Linked DNA regions of Homo sapiens. Each later gene encodes a partner of the first gene's protein in a complex. Each region holds a gene or a part of one and is shown in the gene's direction. Other genes may lie near its edges.

Region 1 (7,018 bases):
CCCGTCAAGAAATTCACAGCGAAAGGAACACATGCATTTTGCTCACTGGCAGAAAGAGCCTGCACCAAAGACAACCCGCAGGGCCAGCAACCCCAACATCATACAGGGTGGAGCAGCAGTTCCCAAAGCGGGTGCAACTGGACAGGATCCTTTTAGGAGCTACCTAGAGGAACAATTTTTTCTTTTTTTCTTTTTTTTTTTTTTTTTACTTGAGATGGAGTCTCACTCTGTCGCCCAGGCTGGAGTGCAGTGGCACGATTTCGGCCCACTGCAACCTCCGCCTCCCGGGTTCATGCCATTCTCCTGCCTCAGCCTCCCGAGTAGTTGGGATTACAGGCGCCCACCACCACGCCCGGCTAATTTTTTGTATTTTTAGTAGAGATGAGGTTTCACCGTGTTAGCCAGGATGGTCTCGATCTGCTGACCTCGTGATCCGTCCGCCTCAGCCTCCCGAAGTGCAGGGATTACAAGCATGAGCCAACACGCCCGGCCCAGGAACAATTTTTAAACCAATAGTCATGAATTGTTAATATAAATTAACACATCCAACCATGATTTTATCGCTCAGAAGGAGGCTAAGAAAGTGAATTGATTTAAAGAAAAATACGAAGTAAATAATCACAAAGGTGGATCACGAAGGTGGTTTGTGCACAGCCCAGAAGCCCAGGAAGGAATGTCGGGTAGAGAGGGTGGAACCTGTCCCGAGGATCAAGGCTCTGAAGTTCCATCCTTAACTGCTGTCTCTCATTCTTGCACTGATGCCCCATTCCACAAGCACGTGTTGCCCTCCCACTGCACGCCAGGTGTAGAGGATACGGCACACCTGGTGCTACCCTCATGGAGGCACTTGGAGGGCTGCCTGGGGGCAGCACCACTGACTTGTGTCTCCAGGGCAAGTGGGGAGTGGATGAAGCAAAGGCAGGAAGCTTTCCAGGCCCAAGGATCAGCTTGTGTGTAGGGAGGAAGGGAGAATGAAGCGGGGAAAAGCAGGTTGGATTTGAACTGAAAGAGGCCACTGGGGTGGAGCACAGAAGTGACAGGGGAGAGCGTTTGAGATGAGGCCAGAGAATCACTGGGGGCTGGATCACACAGGCCCTGTAGGTCACGGCAAGGACTGTGGGTGTTGTCATTCATTTGGCCAACATGTATTGGGCTCCTGCCTTGTGCTGGGCATGGAGGGGCATACGATGCCACCAGGCCTTCCTTTGAGGTGCTTGGGTGCAGCAGCAGGCTTTTGAACACACTGGTAGCATTTTTCTTTTTCTTTTTTTTTTTTCTTTTTTGAAACAGAGTCTCGTTCTGTTGTCGTCCAGACTGGAGTGTAGTGGCACGATCTCCGCCCACTGCAACCTCCACCTCTTGGGTTCGAGCGATTCTTCCGCCTCAGCCCCCCAAGTAGCTGGGACTACAGGCGTGCGCCACCACGTCCAGCTAATTTTGTATTTTTATTTATTTATTTATTTATTTATTTATTTTTTGAGACAGAGTCTTACACCGTCCCCCAGGCTGGAGTACAGTGGCACAATCTCGGCTCACTGCAACCTCTGCCTCCCGAGTTCAAGCGATTCTCCTGCCTCAGCCTCCTGAGTAGCTGGGATTACGGGCACCTGCTACCATGCCCAGCTAATTTTTTGTATTTTTATTAGAGACGAGGTTTCACCATGTTGGCCAGGCTGGTCTCCAACTCCTGACCTCGTGATCTGCCCACCTCAGCCTCCTAAAGTGCTGGGATTACAGGCATGAGCCACCGCGCTCAGCCTCAGTGGCATTTTCCTAAGTGCTGTGATAGAGGTGGGAACTGGAGACTGGGGAAGCGCAGAGGGGAGTGGGGGCTGGTGTGCATGATAAGGCAGTGACATTGAGTTGGGTTTTGAAGGATGAGTAGGAGTTTGACAAGAGGGAGAGGAAAGGCATTCCTGGCAGTGGGAACAGAATGAGCAAAGTCACAGAGGTATGAAAAAGCCCCGATGATCTGGGGAGACGCTGGCAGCTGGAGCCACAGTGGGCAGTAGAAAGAGGACAGGCCAGAGGGTCAAGTTCACAGAAGGTATTAAGGCCCAAGCCAGAGTTAAGGTTTCACTCTGCAGGTTGGGCACCAGGTTTGAATGGGAGAGTCCCACCCACACTCTTAGGCAGAGCCCTCTGCTGACGTGTGCTGGTGGGGTTGGGTGACAGGGGAGGGTAGCATAGCCGCCACTGCCCGATGGGGTGTGGAGGTGGCCAGGCCTGGGCTGTGGCAGGGGACTGGACGAGGGAAGCCCTTTTGTGTGTTCCTGAAGGTGGGGGCTGCAGAGCATGGCTGTCTCTGTGCCCCCAGCCTGGGTTGGCCTGGTGCCTAGAGCAGGGACCTCTCATTATAGAGCCAACTTTGGGCTACCTGCTGCACCAACTTGGAAGACCAGAGGCCTTGTCCAGAAGAGTAAAGATTCCAGCCAGCTGGGCCTATGGTCTGAATCCAAAGCAAACAGGAAGAGAGTATGGTGGGCCAGGCAGGGCCTCTTTCTTTGTTTAGAAAAGGGATTAGTCCAGGCCGACTTGTGGGTCTTTCTGCTGCAAAGGTGGGAGGGGGCTGCAGGCTCCGTCAGGGACATATCAAAAGGCTTTTCAGGGGCAGGCATGGTGCCCCAGTGCCAGCCTGGGGGGTGCTGTAAAGATGGGCTCCCTTGGCGAATTCCATCCACCCTGATGGGAGGAGCCTGGCAGCATGTGCTGGGAGCCACTGCTCCTTCTCTCACCACGCCCAAGCTGGAGCCCTTCCTGACACCTGATTTCGCACGATTGCCCCTTGGGGTCATCACCCAAGCCTAATGGGGTGTCTGCTAGTCACTGCAGTGGGAGGTCCATCCTGGTCCCAGACCAAGGCCCCTTGGGGAAATGCCAAAGGCTCAGAACACCCTCAGTCTCAAAGGTGGGCACCCAGGACTCCCCTAAAGACCCTGGGCTCAGACTCGGCCTCCATACACCAGACGAGAGGCGGCAGGTATTTGTGTTTTGCTTATGCCTGATTGAACTAATCCACGTGTCCCTTCAGTTCACACATTGCATTTATTTAAGAAGCCTTCCTGCAAGCTCAGGGGTGGCAGGGGTGGCAGGGGTGGCAGACGAGTGAGGCCCTCAGGGAGCAGAGCTGAGGGAGCAGGAAGGCATGTGGGGCCCTGACATGCTGGGGCCTGGCACGAGTCCGGCCTGCCTGCCATGCTTGGAGAAGGGCTCAGAAGAGGCAGGCACTTCTTCTGGGGGCAGGTGTGGGGTGGGGACAAGCTGGGAGACAGAGGCCAGAAAGACTTTGGTAAGGAGTTTCTCCTGGACTGACTCATTCATTCATTTACTCAATCCTTCGTGCATGTGCGCATCCACTCAACATCTCAGTAATGAGGACCTACTGTGTGCCAGGCACTGTGCTAAGTGCTGGTGAGGCCCTGCTGTCATGGGGCCTGCAGTCCAGGACTCAAGTTATCACCACACAGATCAAAGGGAAAACCACGCTGAGTTCTGGGGCTTTGCAGAACAGGTCTGTGGAGCTAATGGAGCTCATAGGAGCTTGACTTGGTCAGGGAGGTCAGGGCGGCTTCGCTGCGGAAGACTTGTAGGATGGAAAGGAATTAACCAAGGCAATAGGGAAGAGAAGATCCAGGCAGAGGGAACAGGTTGTGCCAAGGCCCTGGGGCTTGATGAAGGCCAGAGTGGCTGGGGTACTGCAACAGGGGGGAAGAGGCCAGGAAATGGGCAGGCTGACTGTACCCGGGCTTGTGGGTGCCTTTAGAAGGTCTGGTCTGGACTCTACAAGCAAAAGGAAGGTTTTTTTTAGCAGTGGCATAAAATGATCCAATTTGTGTTGAGCAGGTTCAAGCAGGCCCGAATGGAGGCAGGGAGTCCATAGGGGCGCTGCTGTGTCCACATAAATGATGAGAATGGTTTTGACCAAGTGCATCTTGCGATGGGGGAATGTGGGTGAATTGGATGTGGAGTGAGGTCAGGCGGTGTCGAGGTCTGAGAAACTGGGCTGGTGGATGGGGAAAGTGACAATGAACATAATTTTCCTGTAAGGTGTGTATTTTATTTTGTATGGTAAGTAATATCTTCATTTCTACCAAGGATAGAAAGAGGCAATTGTTGAGCTTTGGGTAAGAAAGAAGGGAACGATTTTTTTCTTTTTTCTTTTGAGTCTCACTCTGTCACCCAGGCTGGAGTGCAGTGGTGCGATCTCAGCTCACTGCAATCTCTGCCTCCCGGATTCAAGCAATTCTCTGCCTCAGCCTCCCAAGTAGCTGGGATTACAGACGCCCGCCACCACGCCCAACTAATTTTTTTTGTATTTTTAGTAGAGACGGGGTTTCGCCATGTTGGCCAGGCTGGTCTTGAACTCCTAACCTCGTGATCCACCCACCTCGGCCTTCCAAAGTGCTAGGATTACAGGCGTGAGCCACCACGCCCAGCCGGGAATGATTTTTAATCATTCTACTATTTGGTGTTTAATATGTTTTCTCACTAAATCTGTTCAACAAACCTGAGAGGCAAATACTGTTATTTATTTATGAGGAGAGAGGTTCAGAAGGGTAAAGTTACCTGCTCAAGGTCACAGCTGGAAAGAGGTGAAGCCTTCAGCAAAAAAAGCAAAACAACTCATTTCATTTTATTCCGTGAGCTGATAATGGAGGAAAAAGTATTTGGCAAGAAGCGGCAGGGAGGGGAACCTGGAGGAACTCCCTGCTCTTGAAGAATGCAAGGGAGGCTGGGACCTTGTCACTGAGGAGCCCCTGGCATCCTTCCAGAGATGCAACCAAAGGGGTGACCCCAGTGTGTTCTTAATAGGAGCCGGGAACCCCTTCTCTGTGCACCTCCCACCTCTTGCCCCTGGGAAGTCCTTCCCTGACTCTAACCTCAGTTCTGATGCTGTTCCCACCCTCTCAGCTCTCAAGCAGATCAATGCAATGCCACCTGGCCGCTTGCTTTGCCCACTGGGCCTACAGCCGGAAGCCTGCCCTTCAGCCCTCGGGCCTGATCCCAGGCCGCCTGCAGCCTGTAACCAGACACTGTTTGCTTCCAGCAGGCACCCCCCGAGCCCAGCTCCACACACCGTTCCTGGATCTCCTCTCCCCAGGCGGAGCGTGCCCCTGCCCAGTCCAGTGACCTTCGCCTGTTGGAGCCCTGGTTAATTTTTGCCCAGTCTGCCTGTTGTGGGGCTCCTCCCCTTTGGGGATATAAGCCCGGCCTGGGGCTGCTCCGTTCTCTGCCTGGCCTGAGGCTCCCTGAGCCGCCTCCCCACCATCACCATGGCCAAGGGCTTCTATATTTCCAAGTCCCTGGGCATCCTGGGGATCCTCCTGGGCGTGGCAGCCGTGTGCACAATCATCGCACTGTCAGTGGTGTACTCCCAGGAGAAGAACAAGAACGCCAACAGCTCCCCCGTGGCCTCCACCACCCCGTCCGCCTCAGCCACCACCAACCCCGCCTCGGCCACCACCTTGGACCAAAGTAAAGCGTGGAATCGTTACCGCCTCCCCAACACGCTGAAACCCGATTCCTACCGGGTGACGCTGAGACCGTACCTCACCCCCAATGACAGGGGCCTGTACGTTTTTAAGGGCTCCAGCACCGTCCGTTTCACCTGCAAGGAGGCCACTGACGTCATCATCATCCACAGCAAGAAGCTCAACTACACCCTCAGCCAGGGGCACAGGGTGGTCCTGCGTGGTGTGGGAGGCTCCCAGCCCCCCGACATTGACAAGACTGAGCTGGTGGAGCCCACCGAGTACCTGGTGGTGCACCTCAAGGGCTCCCTGGTGAAGGACAGCCAGTATGAGATGGACAGCGAGTTCGAGGGGGAGTTGGCAGATGACCTGGCGGGCTTCTACCGCAGCGAGTACATGGAGGGCAATGTCAGAAAGTGAGTTCCGGCTGGGCTGCCCGGTGGGGTGGATCCGAGGTGCTGAGGCAAGGCTGGATTCTGAGGGCCAAGGAAGGACTTAGCTTGCAGGCCTTTGAACCCTGTGGAGCCCGAGACTGGCCCATTGCTTCACCTCCAGCTGCTGGCAAAGCAGCTGCAAATGCACCGAACTGGGAGGGCTTCCCCACCCCTCACCAGGGAGCTGGGGATGAGGGACAGAGCGTCCCTTGGACAGACAGGAAAACCGAGGCTCAGAGGAGAGAAACTCACCCGAGGTCCCTGAGAGCCTGCTGGCACCCCGAATCCAGAAGGAGCCCCAACCCCCACGAGTCAGCTGGCCTGGCAGGGCTCCGGAGGCTCCCGGCGAGGCGGGGGTGGGAGCAGGAGCAGGGGTTAGGCTGGGGCAGCCTTCCATGTACCCCTTTCCCTGCATGCCTGGTAGCATCCTCAGAGCCCCTCCCACACCCCCAGCTCTGGCACACCCTCTAACCTTCCTGTTGGGGCAGGGTGGTGGCCACTACACAGATGCAGGCTGCAGATGCCCGGAAGTCCTTCCCATGCTTCGATGAGCCGGCCATGAAGGCCGAGTTCAACATCACGCTTATCCACCCCAAGGACCTGACAGCCCTGTCCAACATGCTTCCCAAAGGTGAGTGGGCCCTGCCTGCGGCCACAGGGCCAGGGGGCAGGCACCCTGGGCTGGGGTGTGGGGCAGGAGGGTACGTCCTCACACACACATGCTCCCTGCCCAGGTCCCAGCACCCCACTTCCAGAAGACCCCAACTGGAATGTCACTGAGTTCCACACCACGCCCAAGATGTCCACGTACTTGCTGGCCTTCATTGTCAGTGAGTTCGACTACGTGGAGAAGCAGGCATCCAATGGTGTCTTGGTATGAGGCTGGGCCCATCTCTCCTTCACGTGGGCTGGCCCCGGCTTGAGGGGTCTTCCCGTTCTCTTCATCCCTGTGCCAGTTTCTGAATTGTTAGGCCAGGGTTGGAATCCCACCTCTGAGTGATTTCAGGCAAGTGTCTTGTTCTCTGGTTCTCCATTTCTGCACCTGAAAAATGAAAACAATGGTTTCTCTTCATGAAGGGAGTTCCTGACCCACCGGTTACCAGACAGACGGTG
Region 2 (7,172 bases), on another chromosome or scaffold:
GTACACCTTATATAAATACAATAAAAATTATTATTAAAAAAGAAAGAACAGGCTGAGAATGGTGGCTTATGCCTGTAATCCCAACACTTTGGGAAGTTGAGGTAGGAGGATCACTTGAGACCAGTAGTTCAAGATCAGCCTGGGCAACATAGCAAGACCCTATCTCTACAAAAAATAAAAATAAAAAAATTAGCCAGATATGGTAGCATGCACCTGTAGTCCTAGTTACTCTGGAGACTGAGGCAGGAGGATTCTTTGAGACATGATCATGCCACTGCACTCCAGTTTGGAGGACAGAGCAAGACCCCAACTCTAAAACAACACACAAAAATACAGCCATTTCTCCTGGGTGAAATGGGGGAGCTCAGACTATTTTGTTTTATTTGTCAGGAGTCTAAAGCCCATGTGAGCCAACTTAAGAAAATTCTGTTTGTATTTGAGTGTTCTTTATTGGAAAGAAATGGACTTTTCCCTAATGAGCCCATTTTACAAATCGAGAGCTCCAAATGCCCGGTTCCAGCCCCCATGATATAGATGGGCAGCAATGAGGACCAGAAATGCTGGGAAGTGTCCTTGTCATGCAAGGAAAACTTGGAACTTCAAGGATCCATCATGGGATGCAGGACAGTAGGCTCCACCCCTCTTCCTGCTTTCCAGTAAATGATGTTCAGGGCTCACATGCCTCTTCCAAGGCATGATGTGGGGTTGCAGTTCTGATCCCAGCAGAGAACAAGGCTCCTGTGAAACAATTAGTTTTGGCTCAGAGGCAAAAAATGGAAACCCCATTCCTGTATTTACCCTTCATTCTTTCCTTACCTCATACAGCTGGTTCCAGGTTTGATTGCATCATATACATAAATAAATAATCTGCTTTCCTGGTTTGGTTTAGTTTTGCTGGAGAGAGGAGTTTATGTGTTCATCCCATGACTAGCTGGGTGGTCAAGAGATTGGAAAGTAGGAGTTCTAGTTTAGACCAAGTCTCATCTCAGAAACCACAGAGTAGAACTGATCCCAAACGTCATCATCCCTGTAGGGAAAAGAAAGAGAGATCAGACTGTTACTGTGTCTATATAGAAAGGGAAGACATAAGAGACTCCATTTTGAAAAAGAGCTATACTTTAAACAATTGCTTTGCTGAGATGTTGTTAATTTGTAGCTTTGCCCCAGCCACTTTGACCCAACCTGGAGCTCACAAAAACATGTGTTGTATAAAATCAAGGTTTAAGGGATCTAGGGCTGTGTCAAAGTGGCTGGGGCAAAGCTACAAATTAACAACATCTCAGCAAAGCAATTGTTTAAAGTACAGCTCTTTTTCAAAATGGAGTCTCTTATGTCTTCCCTTTCTATATAGACACAGTAACAGTCTGATCTCTCTTTTTTTTCCCTACATATCCCAATAGCACCTGCCTGACTAATACATCATGCTCTGCTGACTCCATATGTGGCTGGTTTCCTGGATCCGATTCTGACTGATGGTATCTGTTCTCACGCTGCTAATAAAGACATACCAGAGACTGGGTAATTTATAAAGAAAAAGAGGTTTAATGGACTTATGTGTTCCACGTGGCTGGGGAGGCCTCACAATCATGGTGGAAGGTGAAGGAGGAGCAAAAGCACATCTTACATGGTGGCTGGCAAAAGAGAGAAAGCATGTTCAGGGGAACTCCCCTTTATAAAACCATCAGATCTCATGAGACTTATGCACTATCACAAGAACAGCATCAGAAAGATCCACCCTCATGATTCAATTACCTCCCACTGGGTCCCTCCCATGACACATGGGAATTATGGGAGCTACAATTGGAGATTTGGGTGGGGACACAGCCAAACCATATCAGATGGCTTATTTGGTTTCTATGTAGAACCTCTGCTTTTCATTCAACAGTCTTCATTTAGCCACAGATAAGCTCTGTCCCTAACTTCCACTGATGGAATGTACACATAAGAAACTTCCACTGATGGAATGAACACAGAAGGTGCCTACTGGGAAGAAAACTGGCCTGAATCTGAGCTGGGTCAAATGTCTGCAGTCAGTTTGAATGGCTGCTCCTTATGGGAATAATTTACATTCTCAATAAAATTCTCTAGCAATTTTCTGATTGATTTTAATGAGCTTTAAAGCCTTACGTAGAAGATCCCCCAGCTGATAGTCAGCCTTGGGCATGGATTAAGGGCTTTTAACCAATCTTGCAACAAGTTTAAGCAGATATTCTTTATTGGGTCCAATCTAACCAAAATTATTTTCTTATGTTCTCCCCAGTAACGTGTCATTATTAAGAGAAGTTTGGCTTGCTTAGAGGCCAAATTTAGAGGGTCCTGAAATTTTATTTTCTTTTACACCACTTTCCAGCATGTTACCTGATCAGTTGTTTATTATCTTTGCTGTTGAATGGAGTGATCATTCCAAGGGCCCGAGGCAGGAGGCCCAGGCACAGTGGAAACTCTCCCAAAGACCAGGATCTTTGTTTTGTTCCCTGACATATGCTGAGCACCAGGAATAGTGAGTGAATGAAACAAATTGTGAGGCTTTAAAGAGCCGAAATATTTAAACACTGGGCACAAGGTTGTTGCTTAATCAGTGCTAGATCCTTACCTCCCCCTTGTGTCCAGGTGGACTTGTTACTGCAGTTAAACCACTTGCTGATCCTCAAACAACTAGTTAGTGGCACAGCCAGGCCTAGGACCCCAGTCTCTACTGTTCCAACTAACCCATTCGCAGGCAGGAGCACTTTGAATGGTCTCTTATTTTAAAAAAATTAAATTAAAATTGTCTATTTATTTAGAGACAGAGTCTTACTCTGTAGCCCAGGCTCGAGTGCAGTGGTGCAATCATAGCTCACTGTAACCTCCATCTCCTGGCCTCAAAAAGTGTTTGAATTACAGATGCGAGGCACTGTACCTGGCCCGAATGTTCTGTTCAGACAAAGCCACCTCTAAGTCGCTGTGGGGCCCCAGACAAGTGATTTTTGAGGAGTCCCTATCTATAGGAACAAAGTAATTAAAAAAATGTATTTCAGAATTTACAGGCCCATGTGAGATATGATTTTTTTAAATGAAGATTTAGAGTAATGGGTAAAAAAGAGGTATTTGTGTGTTTGTTGATTGTTCAGTCAGTGAATGTACAGCTTCTGCCTCATATCCAGGCACCATCTCTTCCTGCTCTTTGTTGTTAAATGTTCCATTCCTGGGTAATTTCATGTCTGCCATCGTGGATATGCCGTGGCTCCTTGAACCTGCTTGTGTTGAAGCAGGATCTTCCTTCCTGTCCCTTCAGTGCCCTAATACCATGTATTTAAGGCTGGACACATCACCACTCCCAACCTGCCTCACCCACTGCGTCACTTGTGATCACTGGCTTCTGGCGACTCTCACCAAGGTCTCTGTCATGCCCTGTTATAATGACTACAAAAGCAAGTCTTACCTATAGGAAAATAAGAATTATAACCCTTTTACTGGTCATGTGAAACTTACCATTTGCAATTTGTACAGCATAAACACAGAACAGCACATCTTTCAATGCCTGCATCCTGAAGGCATTTTGTTTGTGTCTTTCAATCTGGCTGTGCTATTGTTGGTGTTTAACAGTCTCCCCAGCTACACTGGAAACTTCCAGAAGGCACTTTTCACTTGCTTGTGTGTTTTCCCCAGTGTCTATTAGAGGCCTTTGCACAGGGTAGGCTCTTTGGAGCAGCTGAAGGTCACACATCCCATGAGCGGGCAGCAGGGTCAGAAGTGGCCCCCGTGTTGCCTAAGCAAGACTCTCCCCTGCCCTCTGCCCTCTGCACCTCCGGCCTGCATGTCCCTGTGGCCTCTTGGGGGTACATCTCCCGGGGCTGGGTCAGAAGGCCTGGGTGGTTGGCCTCAGGCTGTCACACACCTAGGGAGATGCTCCCGTTTCTGGGAACCTTGGCCCCGACTCCTGCAAACTTCGGTAAATGTGTAACTCGACCCTGCACCGGCTCACTCTGTTCAGCAGTGAAACTCTGCATCGATCACTAAGACTTCCTGGAAGAGGTCCCAGCGTGAGTGTCGCTTCTGGCATCTGTCCTTCTGGCCAGCCTGTGGTCTGGCCAAGTGATGTAACCCTCCTCTCCAGCCTGTGCACAGGCAGCCTGGGAACAGCTCCATCCCCACCCCTCAGCTATAAATAGGGCATCGTGACCCGGCCGGGGGAAGAAGCTGCCGTTGTTCTGGGTACTACAGCAGAAGGTAAGCCGGGGGCCCCCTCAGCTCCTTCTCGGTCTTGTCTCTCTCAGATGTAACTGAGCTGTGGGCTAGGAGGAAAAGGCCGGGAGGAGGCACGGTGATGACTGAAAAACCTCTCCCCTCTCATAAGACCAGTCATCCGGACGCGGGCTTTCCCCCACTCGGTGCCCACCTGGGGTCTTACAGGAGGAGCTGCTCCTCCTCAGCAATAGGACAAGATGGTCAGGTCTTCCTGCTTCCGCTGAGAAAAGTTAGGGTCCTCAGGAACGGAGCAGACTGGTACAGGAACAGAGTCATCATGGCCAAGAGTCCACCGGGTCCTCTTGCCATCAGGAGGAATAGCAGGGCTTGTGCAGGAATTGGGGCTGGAGGGAAGGGCCGGGCTCGGTCAGTCTCCAGCTGGGATCCCCAGAGTGGTCACCCTACCCCTCCCTCGAGACAGACTGCCTGACTGTGTGTCATCAGGCTGGTCACCATCTCCCTGAACCTCGATTTGCTCACCTATAAAATGGAACTAATAACGATGCCTGGGCTCCCTGTCTCAGGGGCTCTGGTATAGCTGAAGAGAACTAATATAACATGAAAGTGCTTTCTAAGCTTTGGGATAAGCTAAAAGGCAGATTCCAATTTTATTCGAGGGCAGCGTAGATTGGTGCTTCAGCTCGTGGATGACAGAGTCAGGGGGCCTGGTTCTGAGTCCTAGTTCTGTCTCTTCCCAGCTGTGTGACGTTGAACAAGTCACTGGACCTCTCTGTTCCTCTGCAAAACAGCATGAACCAATTCATTAACTACTTCTCCAGGATGCAGTAGGTCCCAGGGACTATCCTAGGAATGTGGGCTGTATTAGTAAACACAACAGCGGGAACCCTGTTCCGGGGCTCACATTCACATCAGAGCAAACAGACAAAGACGCTGGACAGAATAAGTGCATAACTACATGGTACAGAGGGTTATAAGGAGGGAAAAGGGGAGCTGGATGAGAGAGTTGAGAGTGCCCGGTGTGGTGGGGAAAGCTGCAGGGTGAAATACTGCATCAGGGAAACCTCAGGGAAGGTGAGGACTATGGTGAGGTCAGAGGGGTTGATATGAGAACAGTGCCCTGCAAATGGCAGGCACCACAGGAGCATGAGCCGTCATCTTCACCTTTAGCATTCAGCCCGGGAGAAGTAGGGAGACATAGAAGGGGCAGGTGCTGGCCAAGAGGCAGGGGCAGGAGAGGAGAAGGCGGAGGGGCACTCAGGGCGAGGGTGTCAGGCCCGCCACCCCAGAGCACCATTACTCCCAGGACGCGGCTGCGTGCAGACCTGGAACCAGCCTAGGGAGCAGCCGCAGATCACAACTGAGAACAAACGACAGTCTCTGCCTCAAAAATGGCCCATGGAATTGCGTCTCTGGAGACGCTGCCTGAGCAGGAGCAGCACAGTGAGCGGGCTGCATCGACCAGCGCCATCCAAACCCCGAACAGTTGGCGCTTGTCAGGCAGGACTTCCCAGCAGTCGGTTCCCACAGGTTTCCCCTGTTGACCTGATTTGATGTGACTGTCTAGATTAGGTGTGAACTGGTGGCTTAGGCTTCTCTGCACAGAAAGGCCTGCAAGCAGCAGAGAGAGTTTTCTGTTCCATTTTTCCATGTCATGTGGCTCTTCCTGAGAACAGCGGATGGAGTCAAATGCATGGGGAGTGGGGTGAGATGGTAGCTGAGGTCAGAATTTGGCATTTGAATGACTGAAGCAGAACAAAACACACCAGGTACTTCAGCAGCTGCACCGTGTTGAGGGCAGGTGCTGGTTACGGGTCTGGGTGAGGGAAGCCAGCTGCCAATGTAAGAAGAATGACTGGGTATGCTTAGATGAAGCAGAAAAATCTAGGCATCAAGGTGGCCTTGAGTCAGTGATGACACGCTACAGCTCCAAGGAAGCCTGGCCTAGCCCTGGGGGGACAGAAAAGGCCAAGAAGTGACGATATTGCAGTACACCCCCCTCCACAAGAAATGAGTGAGATGTGGTACAAAATGTTAGAATTGAATGAATCAATAGAATAAACGTTCATCCCTTCAATCAAGAAGAGTCAGATGAAATGAATTAGCAGGGCCAGCCCAAGAACCTCTTCTGGGGGTCTCAGGGTAGCTTTCATTTGTAGCAGCTGAGGCTGAAGCCCAGCTGCAAGGCCTTTGAGAGAACGTGGTGCTGGACCCGTGTCTAGGGCAGGGGTTCTAAACCCTGCTTACATATCAGAGTCACCTGAGAATTTTCTATTTTTTTTTTTTTTTTTTTATACGTGGTCCCAGCACAGACTAAGGAATCCAACTATCATTGGGCAAGCCATGCTAGGTATGCATGCCTTTGGGGCTCTGCAGGGGATAGCGCTATGCAGGGATGGTTGAGAGCTGGTTTTGGGGTTGAGACACGTGGGAAATACTTGGACTTTGGGCTGAGCCTGTGGTGCTCAATCCCGGCTGCATGTTGGGACCACAGGGAGATGACAAAACCATCCCCAGCCCTCACCCTAGGGCCCTCGAATGAGCATCTCAGGGGTCTAGGAGGCCTCCACAAAGACCTACTGATTGGCACACACTTGTTTCTCTAGGAAGAGAACTTACAGCTGCAGGCAGGAGCATGTCTTAATCTGCTTGGGCTGCCATAAGTACCACAGACTGGGAGGGTTTAACAACAGAAATGTGTTATCTCACAGTTCTGGAAGCTAGAAGCCTGGGAGCCAGCCATCAGCAGAGTTGGTTTCCTCTGGGTCCTCTATCCTTGGCTTGTAGATGGCCGTCTTCTCTCTGTGTCCCCACATGGTCTTCCCTCTGTGTCCCCACATGGTCTTCCCTCTGTGTGTGTCCATGTCCTCATCTCCTCTTCTCATAAGGACACAGGTCATATTAGATCAGGGCTCACCCTCATGGCCTCATTTTAACTTAATCATCTCTTTAAAGATCCTGTCTCCAAATAATGGTCACATTCTGAG

Evidence for each region. Proteins that work in one complex are often made in the same cells at the same time.
Region 2: the proteins of ANPEP (region 1) and AGT are in contact, whole or in part, in a crystal structure (PDB 4FYS), measured with the Homo sapiens proteins. Residues at the interface, in NP_001141.2 of Homo sapiens: Gln211 (codon at 6,410), Gln213 (codon at 6,416), Ala351, Gly352, Ala353, Met354, Glu355, Arg381, Val385, His388, Glu389, His392, Glu411, Glu418, Asn438, Arg442, Phe472, Tyr477, Ile864, Phe896, Ser897, Asn900, Gln903, Ala904, Arg907; in NP_001369746.2 of Homo sapiens: Val27, Tyr28, Ile29, His30, Pro31, Phe32.

The regions. Positions count from the first base shown.
Region 1 is NC_000015.10:89,804,839-89,811,856, reverse strand, and holds part of ANPEP (aminopeptidase N precursor), read left to right. Parts: intron 1-5,047; exon of another isoform or gene 5,048-5,050; 5' UTR 5,051-5,273; coding exon 5,274-5,887; intron 5,888-6,393; coding exon 6,394-6,536; intron 6,537-6,639; coding exon 6,640-6,779; intron 6,780-7,018. UniProt on the Homo sapiens protein: Broad specificity aminopeptidase which plays a role in the final digestion of peptides generated from hydrolysis of proteins by gastric and pancreatic proteases.
Region 2 is NC_000001.11:230,711,123-230,718,294, reverse strand, and holds the start of AGT (angiotensinogen precursor), read left to right. Parts: upstream 1-4,172; 5' UTR 4,173-4,209; intron 4,210-7,172. UniProt on the Homo sapiens protein: Essential component of the renin-angiotensin system (RAS), a potent regulator of blood pressure, body fluid and electrolyte homeostasis.